Linked DNA regions of Homo sapiens: region 2 is linked to region 1. Evidence: fine-mapped expression QTL. A gene starts in region 1. The other region holds a variant in brackets. All regions are shown on one strand. Distances are between the middles of the regions.

Region 1 (5,378 bases):
AACTCCTGGGCTCAAGCAATTCTCTCGCCTCAGCCTCCTAAAGTGCCTCCATGCCAGGACCTGTATTGATTCTTATCAGTAAAAATCAGGCCCTGAATATTCAAAACTAAAATCAAGACTGTTTCTACAAATCCTTCTAACGGAACATGTTCAGACTCCCAGACTATCCTATATATAAATGGCAAGAACTTTCTTTCAGGTGTTCTTTGGAACAAGGAGCCATTCTATTAAATAATGGCTGCAGTGGCCACTGGCTACTTTCATTGAGCACTTAGTAGTCCATCCTTTAAAGTCAAACACAGAATGAGGTTAACTTCTACTGTGTCCGGGCCCTGCTTGCTTATTGACTTCTAATATTGGTTGAAAACTTCAATTTTTAGTGGCAGATTTGGATCAGCTGAAGCTAGAGGCAGTGACAGATGTACAATAAGGTACCCAAGGTTCTTATCCAAGTTCAAGCCAAAAGAAAAAGGCCAAGAAGAGAGAAGGAGCCTGTTAGGAATAGTAACTAGCCACGTGTTTAAAGCGGGCTTATATCAGAATGTCACAACTCATAAGGACTGTTCATTGTGCACTTGTATGTGCATACCTGTTTAATAACTACAGCATATGTTATGTCCCTTTAGCATATATTCTTATGTCCTTAAGAAGCCTTTCTTATACTAGTCTAATGTCATTTGTGTCCTTTTGACATACATGAGCTATTGATATTAGGAAAAATCCTCTCTCACTCCCCAGTGTTTTGACAGGGAATCAACTACACAGAGGATGCCATAGGACATTCTATTTTTCACAACAATCGAAGGAGCCAAATGAATTGCAGAAGTCACCATTTTTAATGAGGAAACACTGAATTGGCAAAGCTAACGTGAAATAAGACCTGACTCCAAAATCTAAAATGTCCTTGAAGAACACTTCAAGGTCTAGCGCGTAAGTATGCCAAGCATGAAGAGTTAACAGATCACCAACCATCCCATGACAGTCAGTCCTCCCTGTTTTTAGAGACAGAATCTCGCTCTGTCGCCCAGGATGGAGTGCAGTGGCGCGATTATAGCGCACTGTAAACTGAACTCCTGGGCTCCACCCATCCTCCTGCCTCAGCCCCAGAGTAGATGGGAACACAGTCGCCAAGTCTGTTCTTGAGTTTCAGGACAGGGTCAAATGTTATAGTGCATGTATTCATTTCAGCACTTATTGAGTGCCTAATAAAGTCTGGGAATAATACAACTTTATTAGTTAAGTCCCTGCCCATGGCAGTAGGGGAGAAGCAAGGATGGAAACCCTCAACAAATAAATCTAAACCTATCAAATATTAAGTCATGATCTTGGAGGGCGGGGAGGAAGGCAGCATAAGAGATTTAGAGGACAGCTGCGGTTGCCAAGATCTTTCTGAGGCAGCATAATACAGGGCTTAAGAGTGAGACCTGCCGGGCACCGCGGTGGCTCAGGCCCAACACTTGGGGAGACCTAGACGGGTACATCACTTGAGGTCAGCCGTTCGAGACCAGCCTGGCCACTACGGCGTTAACACCGTCTCTACTAAAAATACAAAAATTAGCGAGCGTGGTGGTTCTGTGCCTGTAGTCCCAGCTGCCTGGGAGGCTGAGGCACGAGAATCACTGGAACCCGGGAGGCGGAGGCTGCAGTGAGCCGAGACCGCGCCACTGCACTCCAGCCCGGGCTACAGTCTTGTCTCAAAAAAAAAAAAAAAAAAAAAGAGTGTGGGACCCATTGCATCAGGCTGTGTAACTGTTTCTTACTAGCTGTATACCAGTGGCAAGTTACTGAACCATTTGTGCAAAATGTTAATTTATTTACCAACACTGTGTTCAGCTTGCCAGGCACCGTTCTCCTTGAATCTCACAGCAGCCCTGTGAGTAGGCACTACTGTTACCACCGTCACTTTGCAGACAGGGAACCCGAGGGACAAAGAAGTTAAGGGATTTCCTCAAAGCCACAGCTAGGAAGAGCGGCAGAACTGCGATTCCAATCCATCAGTGTGCCTCCACTATCCCTATTCCTTAAGATCGTGCCAAAGGCTGAGTCACTTGCACTAAGTAGCCTAGAACAGTCTCTGGGGAAACGCGCCCGCCGACAAGGATCGCCAGAACCGGCGCGGGCACCGCGCGGCGACCAGGAGCTCTGGTCACCGAAGGCCAGGCTGGAGGCCAGAGCAGCCGCCCGCACCCGGTCACCGCCTCGACAGTGGAGACCTCAGCTGACCGCGAGCCCCCGGCCCGCCCGCACCCCTTCTCATGCCCCCAGGAACCCGCCAAGCCGCTCCAGCCTCACCTCCTCCTCCCTCCATCGCGAGATTTCCAACAGCGTTTTTAAAAAAAAAAAAAAAAAAAAAAAAAAAAAAAAAAAAACCGGAAATGGGTCCTACCATCTTCTCGGAGCCGGAGTGCGAAGAAATAAAGAAATAGTGCTTTAAGTCAATGAATTCCTCCTTGGGACCCACTATCGAGAAACTATCAGTGGTAACGTTTTAAAAAATGACAAATTCAATCTGCTCTTGACTTGTGTGTCCTAAGATTTCCACTAAGTGTCTTCAAACCTCCCCCTCCCCGGCTTCCTGGATAATAGAAGTTCCCGAAGGCCGCCGATTCCAGAAGATACTGTCTGGCGTGAAATTAGTCTCAGTAGAAACATAAGTCCCGCGCGTCTTGTGCTGCGCGTGCGCAAGCTTTTGGGCCCTCCCGAGAAAGGGAAGTGCATTCTCGCTTCCGTAGCGGTCTCCGCCGGTTGGGGGGAAGTAATTCCGGTTGTTGCACCATGGCGTCCATGGGGACCCTCGCCTTCGATGAATATGGGCGCCCTTTCCTCATCATCAAGGATCAGGACCGCAAGTCCCGTCTTATGGGACTTGAGGCCCTCAAGGTAATGGCACAGGGACCTGCTCGCGGTGGGCTAAGGGGAGGTGGCCGAGGCCGTGGCTCTGCGCCTGCGCGAGTTGAGGAGCGGCTCTGCCATGTGCTCCCCGGAAAGGTCGAGAATCTCCGTCTCCCTGCGGTCTCCGGCCGCTCAGCCCGCTTACTGAGCTCGGGAGACGCCGGCGCCTAATCCTGGGCTCGGAATGTGGGGGCCAGCCAGGCTGGGCCGCCAGCGCCCTTCGGAGCTGGGTGGGGCCGCTCAGTCCGGTCGCCCGCGGGAGCAAAGCGGGACCGCCTCCCCGCCCGGCTCCTCCAGCCTGACGGCCGCGTGGGACTGCGCTCCAGTGGGAGGGCGCCGGGGAGATGCTCTGTCACCTGTCGGTTAAGGCGCTGCTGCTTAACCTTTCGCTGGTCCACCCGCAACGGCCCTTCCGTTTTCTTTGTCACTCGTAAAGGTGTGGTCACTTAACAGGGTATTTCATTTCTGAGTGCTTTTTTGCCCACCCTTGAGGAAAAATAGCGAAGAGTGAAAAACGGACGCACATAACCGTAATACAAGGTGGTGTGCAGTGAGAAGGACAGCTACGGAGAGGGTGCACATAAGCGTGGTGCTGGAGGACAGCTTTAGATCGGGGTGAGAGGTAGCATTCTAGGGAGAGGAAACGGTAGAAGTAAAGGCTTGGGCAAGAATGCGCATGGCACGTTGTAGAATGGAAGAGCCATCCGGTTTTAATGGAGCACTGACTTCTTTAACTTACAATAGTTCCCGAAGGTGGAAGCTATTGAATGCCCAACATGGAAAATACGACGTTATCTTTGGGGAAGAAGGGGAGCCATTGAGGGGGTTTTGAGCAGAATTTCAGTAGAGCTGCACTTCAGGCAGCAAAGCTTGAGATAGACCGAAGGGAATAAGGAAGACCAGAGGGGTTAAAGAAACCAGGGCAGGGGTGCAGGTAAGAAACATCTGAGCACCAGACGTTGACAGAAAATGCAGAGGAAGGGACACTCCGAGAGGGCCTTCAGGGTTTGTTATAAAGTGAATTCATAATAGACCATTCCACTAGGTCTCTCAGGTGTCCCTGTTCACTTAGTGTCTTGGAGGTTTACTTACGCAAAGTTAGAAACAATACAGTTCCCCTATGGACTCTTTGTTTGACTTAGTGCTAGTTACACAACCTCGCGGAACCTCCTTTTCCAGGGGGAGGTGATAGGCCTCCGTCAAGCTGAAGACTTGACAGTGATATTAAATGGAGTGACTTAGAGGGGCTGCACAGTGGTTGATCCACGGTAGGCACTCAGTATTTGTTTCCTTTCTAGAAAGAAAAAGTTTCAAGCTAATTGTATTATGTATTCCATTTTATTTTCCACTTAACAGGGACCTGCAGAGAAAATAACATCCAATACACACACCTGGTGTAACAACATAACTAAAACTAGGTTGTTTTGCATCAGCCATTTTGTTCAAACTGCATGCATTTGTGCCCAGAAGTCGCACACTCTGAGACAGGGTTATTTTACAAAACTGGGGACTTGGGCCCAGAGCAGTTGAGAAATTGTTCTGAAGAGCAGTTGCTACTAAAGAGCATTACCATGGTCAGGGCCACCGCTGTCAGAGTCAAAGCCAGTGGTCTAGAGCAGCATTCTCAAGTTTGGCATATTGACATTCGAGGTCGGATCATTCTTTGCTGTGGGAGCTCATTTGGACAGTAACCTGGGTGTTTAAGTCTCTTAAAAGAGTTGGATGCTGTTGGTAGGCATCCTGTGAGTGTTGAGGCTCAGCAGTTTAGGGATATACACTTGCTCCCTGACCTCATAGAACGTCCAGCTAACTTGAAGAACCAAAATATATGGAAATTGAAGGCAACGGTAAAAGAAATGTATAGGCCAGGACGTGAACGTTTTAATGGTAATGGTCACAGTTCTTTCTCTCTGGTCATTTAGAGCCTTAAAGGTAATATGTATTTTGTTGAGATTCTTCACTTGTTTAACACTTAACTGTATAATATTTCACCTTAAAAATGCAGGCATTGACTGGGCGCGGTGGCTCACGCCTGTAATCCCAGAACTTTGGGAGGCTGAGGCAGGAGAATCGCTGGAACCTGGGAGGCAGAGGTTGCGGTGAGCCGAGATCACGCCACTGCACTCCAGCCTGGGTGACAGAGTGAGACTCCGTCTCAAAAAAAAAAAAAAAAAGGTGCAGGCATTAGTTGGCTTAGGAAGGAATCATATTCTAAAATCCTGTAACCTAAAACAGAGCAGGCTAAGTTTCCAGGCCAGCCAGCATAATTCTGTTTTATCCATAATATGTATTATGCCTTGATGTTTGATACTCTTCCCTCTGGAAACACACAGAACTAGCAGAAGGAAGAAAAAGGTTTTTTCCACGTTGCCGAGCAGTAGGGCAAAATAGATCTCGGGATTTCGGGATCTCTCCTATTTGCCAAATTCTTTACATCCTTTTCTTTCTGCCTCTTGCTTTCTCCTTAAAAATAATAATAATAATAA
Region 2 (5,378 bases), 78 kb before region 1:
ATGGGCCTAACGTCATAGTCAGCATCTGCATGGAGTGGCATGGGGTGAGCATTGCCCAGGTCACAGACGCTCAGAGCCTTGGGCTCCAGGAGGCCAGGAGAGGGGCCATGTCAGCACCAAGGGTTTTCTTGCCACTGTAAAGAGGGCCATCACTGCACTCATGCTTCCTCTTTCCTGGTCTAGTTGTCCCAGAGCAGGCCTGTACAACCTCCCACCATACATCATAAAAGTGACAGAGAATACTTGTTAAATGCTACATGCATACGTATGAATGCACTGAATCATTACAGCAATTGTTATTACTCCTATTTTCCATATGAGGAAACTGAGGCACAGAAAAATTCAGTGACTTGCCTAGTCCAGCTCTCCTCAGGCATGGAGAAGAGGGACAAGTGAGTCCTCCAGCTGTTAGTCTGGGGCACCACAGCATGCATCCTGCTTTCAGAAATCTCCTGATCCAAAGACGTGCTCTTTCCCAATCTTCTTGAAATGCCCCTAAACTTCAGGAAGTTATGTCCAACATTCTCTCTCTCATGAAGTAAAAAGAGGGCTGCTGAAGTCAGCCAACAAATTTGGCCCCTCCCCAGTTTTTGCTTTGACGTCCCTCCCCTAGTAGAGAGAAGGAATACTTGGTCCTTTCGGTTTCCTCCACAATCTTCATCTTCCCTGGCAAAGTTTCCACTGAGCCCACCCACTGAACATGGCCAGATGATAGCCACAGGTCTGAGCCCACCCATCGAACATGGCCAGATGATAGCCACAGGTCCAGCTAGCTGTTTGAAGCCTCAGATGACTGCCACAAGTAAAATGATGCCCTGCGGTCCAGCAAGGGTAAAGCCTTCTCCAGAGTACCTCTTCCAGAATGTTCTCATAAGGTTGAACCTTTCCTGGGTACGCTACGAGCTACCCGAGCAATGCAAGTGATCACCAGGAGTGGCTGGCAACAGGAGATAGGGAGACAGGAATGTTTGTGTTAAAACACCCCCCAAGAGATTTTGACAGCAACCCACCCCTGGGTAAGCTCCAGGAATAAAAATGTGAAATCTCACCTTCCCAATCTGGTCTTCGTATTTTTTACTTTTTTCTGATGATAGAAAATAAAATATACTCATTATAAATTTTTAAAATTAAATTAAAAGTGAATAAAGTAGAAAGTGGAAAGCCTCTAAAGTCTAGCCTCCTCAAAAAAAAATCCTCAAGTAATAGATGGGTGCATATCTTCTAGAGCTTTCTATACCTACATAAATAGATGTAACATTGACCACTTAGCCAAGCTATCATGTGTCTTAATGTTCCAGCAGTAACATGGGCTTCTAACACATTGAAAATGTAAATTAACCATTATAGATACTTAAGGTGAGTTGATTTTTATAATAATGGCTGGCTTCTGTATTTTTCCCTATAGTTTTGTTCTGCTATCTCCAGCACAACTCTTCCTGTTCCTACATCTCCAAGCATGAGGTAACAGTTCTGCATGAGTTGGTCAGGTGACACAGATTAAACTGGCCCAACCATGTCCCAGATGACAGGAATTTGTTCTGAATACTGGGATGTCACCCGCCTGGGTGCTTGCTTTAGTGAGATGACAGCATGATACCCTCAGGTTGATGACAAGTGATGGTGCTTATTGTTCAAGAGAACAGATCCAGGTGTCTTGGGTGAGGGAAGGAGGTCCTAGAATCCAGAAATTCCAGGAAGTCTCTTCTTCCCCTATTAAAAAACAAGTGCACAAGGTTTGACAGGATTCATGTGATGGCCATGGGCCCAGCTTGGTAAAAGCCTGCCCTGGAGAATCTAATGGGTCAGCTTAGGGAGATACCACAGTGCAATCTATGAATCAGGAAGCAGGCCCTCACCAGACACTGAATCTGCTGGTGCCTTGATCTTGGACTTCCCAGCCTCCAGAACTGTGAGAACTAAAAGTCTGCTCCTTATGAATCACGCAGTCCATGACATTTTGTCATAGCATCAAAATAAACTAAGATACCGCCTCTCTTGTGTACAAAACCTGCCTATGGACCTCTCAGACCTCCATGAATTCCAGGCTAAGAACCCCTGCCTTTAATTAGAGGAAAAAATATTCAGCAATTCTCTGCCATCCCACACAGTTGCCCAACTTTTCCTGGGTTAAAGTGCACTATTATAAAAAAAAAACCTGAAAGATGAAGAACTAAAATGAAGAAACAGCTCTCACTAGGAGAACACCCCATCTAACATCCATAAGTAAGACATGTTTTATCTGTACGGTTGCCATTTATTTTTCTAACTTAGGTAATTCATCTGAACATATTTTTCTTTTCATTTCCAGTCAGTATATGAAAGAAGTTTTAGCTTCATAATTTTAGTTCTTGGGGAATTTGGTAAAACGTACTAGCCATCATATTCTTGGGTTGAATCTTCTCCATAGCAATAAATCTCAGAAAAAAATAAAAGAAAGATGATGCACTGCATCATTTCTAATTCCAATACTATTTCTGGTTTAACATATGACTTTTAGGTCTTTGTTAACATTTTTGTCTAGCTTTGTGCAAATAGATGGGAAAATATCTAATGTGGTACAAAAATATAACTGTAAAATAAAAGCTCTAGGTAAAGCCATAAGCAGGAATAATCAGCTACAAAAATATCTCTCAAGTTGAATAATAGAGTTTTAGCTCAACTATCAATTTTGAATACAATTACAGCCCAGTAGTTAGCAGATCATTCAGAAATGGA[T/C]ATTTTACTGTTCTACTTTTCAAATTACAATGTGGAACTTTTAGCAATAAAGGGCAGTTTGAAGAAGTGAAAAGTCATAAAATGGGAAATGGAACATATCTAGCAGGAGTAAGGGGAAAAGGGAAGTGTGAGGAGCGTTTAATGGGGCTGGCATCACTATGGCTTTAGGAAGAGAATCACTTCTGATCTGAATGTCCCAAGAGATTGGGTAATAAAGGAATGCTGGATGAGTTCAATTTAAAAAAAATAGAGTAAATGCTCTGAAATGAATATTGAGGAGAAAAATGCACACTATGTCTGCTAAAATTAAAATTAGTATTGGTAAATTGGAATCATCAATAGAAAAATGCTATGCCAACTGCAATTTAAGGATATGACCACCTGGAAGCAAATACATACTCAAGACAAGTTCATTAAAGTGATTATTTCTCTAAATCTGGTAAAATTCCTATCCAGAAGATATTCCCTATGCTCCAAGCCAAAACAGACAAAGTTGGGCTCAAAAACATCTCCTATCTCACACAAGAAAGAAATTTTAAAATTTCAGTTCATTGAGGAGGGCTGAAGTCTCTGAGGGAGACACTATCTCTAACCTCCAATGCTCTGAGCAAACCTACCATTTGCTCCAGAAGAAGACAGCATCCCTATCTTGCCATACAAACAGCCTTGAAAAGTTGGTCCAGAACAAAGGCTGTCAGTGCTGCTTTTGCAAAGACATTCAGAAACGCAAATGACAATTGCACTGACACAGAGTCCTCTTCAACAGCAATAGGTGTCAGAAGACAATGGAACAATATCATTGACGTAATAAGAAAAAGCTTAGAATTTTATCCCCTCAAGAGTGAAGGCAACATAAAAGTATTGTCAGATAAATGTAACCATTATAACGAGCTATCAAAATTTGGGGATATATGGCTGGGTGCAGTGGCTCACACCTGTAATCCCAGCACTTTAGGAGGCTGAGGCAGGCGGATCGCCTGAGGTGAAGAGTTAGAGACCAGCCTGGCCAACATGGAGAAACCCTATCTCTACTAAAAAATCCAAACATGCACACCTGTAATCCCAGCTACTCAGGGGGCTGAGGAAGGAGAATTGCTTGAACTCGGGAGGTGGAGGTTGCAGTGAGCTGAGATCACACCACTGCACTCAAGACTGGGTGACAGAGTGAGACTCCATCTCAAAAAAAAAAAAAAAGTGGGGATATAATCATAAAGCAACTGAAAATTACTAATTTCTGCTTCTCATTTTCCCTTTAAAACTACTAGTCGACAAGTCCTTCTACTTCTGGATAAAAACAGCCCTGTGAATTTTCTGCTCACTGTGAGAATGAAAAACTTTTAAAGACCTAAATCACAAAACAAAACATCAATTTCACATTTTAAATATTCAATAAGCATCAAAATTCAAAGTTTGATTCCCAGTTGAAGTTTTTCTCCCTCCCCCAGGTCAGGGTGTTGCAGGTGAAAAACTTGTAGTCAAGGAAGAGGGTAGCATAGGCTCTTCTCCTTTCCCCAGCTGTACTTCTATGCCTCCTCCCTAAATATGGCTTCTGATCCCTCCAGGTCAAGCAGAAAAAAGAAGAGGCAAGGGCAGCAGGAAGTCTCCCACTGACTAGTATGGGGAAGTGAGCTAGCATCTGTGCTCTCAGGGTTGTGCAAGTGTTTATATCTGACTCTTTTTGTCATGGTGCTTTCAGGGGTCTTCTGAGACTTCCCTCTGCCATCCATAAAAACTATTCATGAAGTTCCCTTGATGAGCATGAGTCTTTTCCAGCAGGTAAAGACCCTTTCATGTCCATCAAGAGAACTACATGAGACTTTCCTGCTCATCAAGGGAACTCCTGGAGACCCCTTCTCTGGTCTCTAGGAATATGGTGAGACCTCCATTTTCTCTCTTCTTGGAGACAATTTTCCTCTCCATGTGGCCTCTTGGGCAAGACTTAAAAGGCCACACACTGGCTTTCTTAGGTATATAGTCCATATCTAGTCCACAAAATGCATTCAAACATCCTTTGCCTCCACAAACTCTGGGAAAGTAATGATCTTCCAAAGACGCCCTCTCCCTTGTTGCCAAAAGCCACATTAGCCTGTCTTAGCATTGCAGTATCACCAACCTGACTCAGTCACCATCTATTCTATCTTCCAAAATGCAAGGCATTCATACTACTCTTTTTGGCAGTCCTCTCAAAATGCTTCTTAATTTGCAGTTAGGAAGTTATTTAATAAGGTACAGCACTTTCCAAAAGTAAATTATGATCTTCAAAACTCTTCATTTGATTTTTATTCTTCCGTTTCTTGTTCTCTCCAACTTCTTTATAAGACATTGATTAGTAATCAAATTTGAATAGAGTCAAATCTGAATGAGTAGAAAAGTTGGTTTTCTGCCATTTTGTTTTACAGTCCTTTGGAATATAGCTTGTGTCATCTTCATGGCTGGGAAATGTTCCATTTTACCACCTTGTTACACATCAGGTAACTCTTCCTGAAGAGCTATGTATTCAAGCAGGAAAAAAAAATGAACCCACAGAGAAAGCCTTGTATACAAGGAACAGAAATTGATAATGTCAATAAATTTAATCATTAATTACCTCAAAGTTACTAATACTGCCATTTTTAAAAAGGATGGGAGTTCCCAGTTAAACATGTGAATTAAACAGATTTATT

Direction of the effects. Alleles are on the strand shown, and positions count from the first base shown. SD is a standard deviation of normalised expression in the study named.
As copies of C replace T in region 2, the expression in transverse colon of the gene that starts at base 2,323 in region 1 goes down (small effect, 0.26 SD a copy in GTEx).

What was found. PIP is the estimated chance that this variant, and not a neighbour inherited with it, causes the effect.
Region 2: its variant is the best candidate, but not a certain one, in a credible set for the expression of ATPSCKMT in transverse colon (GTEx, PIP 0.58).

What each region holds. Positions count from the first base shown.
Region 1 is chr5:10,247,566-10,252,943 of GRCh38, forward strand. It overlaps ATPSCKMT (ATP synthase c subunit lysine N-methyltransferase), which reads right to left and starts at 2,323. Exons shown (of 5, transcript NM_199133.4): 1 at 2,293-2,323. The coding sequence starts at 2,308. It overlaps CCT5 (chaperonin containing TCP1 subunit 5), which reads left to right and starts at 2,715. Exons shown (of 11, transcript NM_012073.5): 1 at 2,715-2,880. The coding sequence starts at 2,776. RefSeq lists silencers at 2,093-2,212, 2,223-2,282, 3,033-3,102, 3,173-3,312, 3,643-3,865.
Region 2 is chr5:10,169,603-10,174,980 of GRCh38, forward strand. No RefSeq gene overlaps it. Among named protein-coding and RNA genes, the nearest start is that of ATPSCKMT, 78 kb to the right of the region's middle. The variant T/C (reference allele first, on the strand shown) is at 2,716.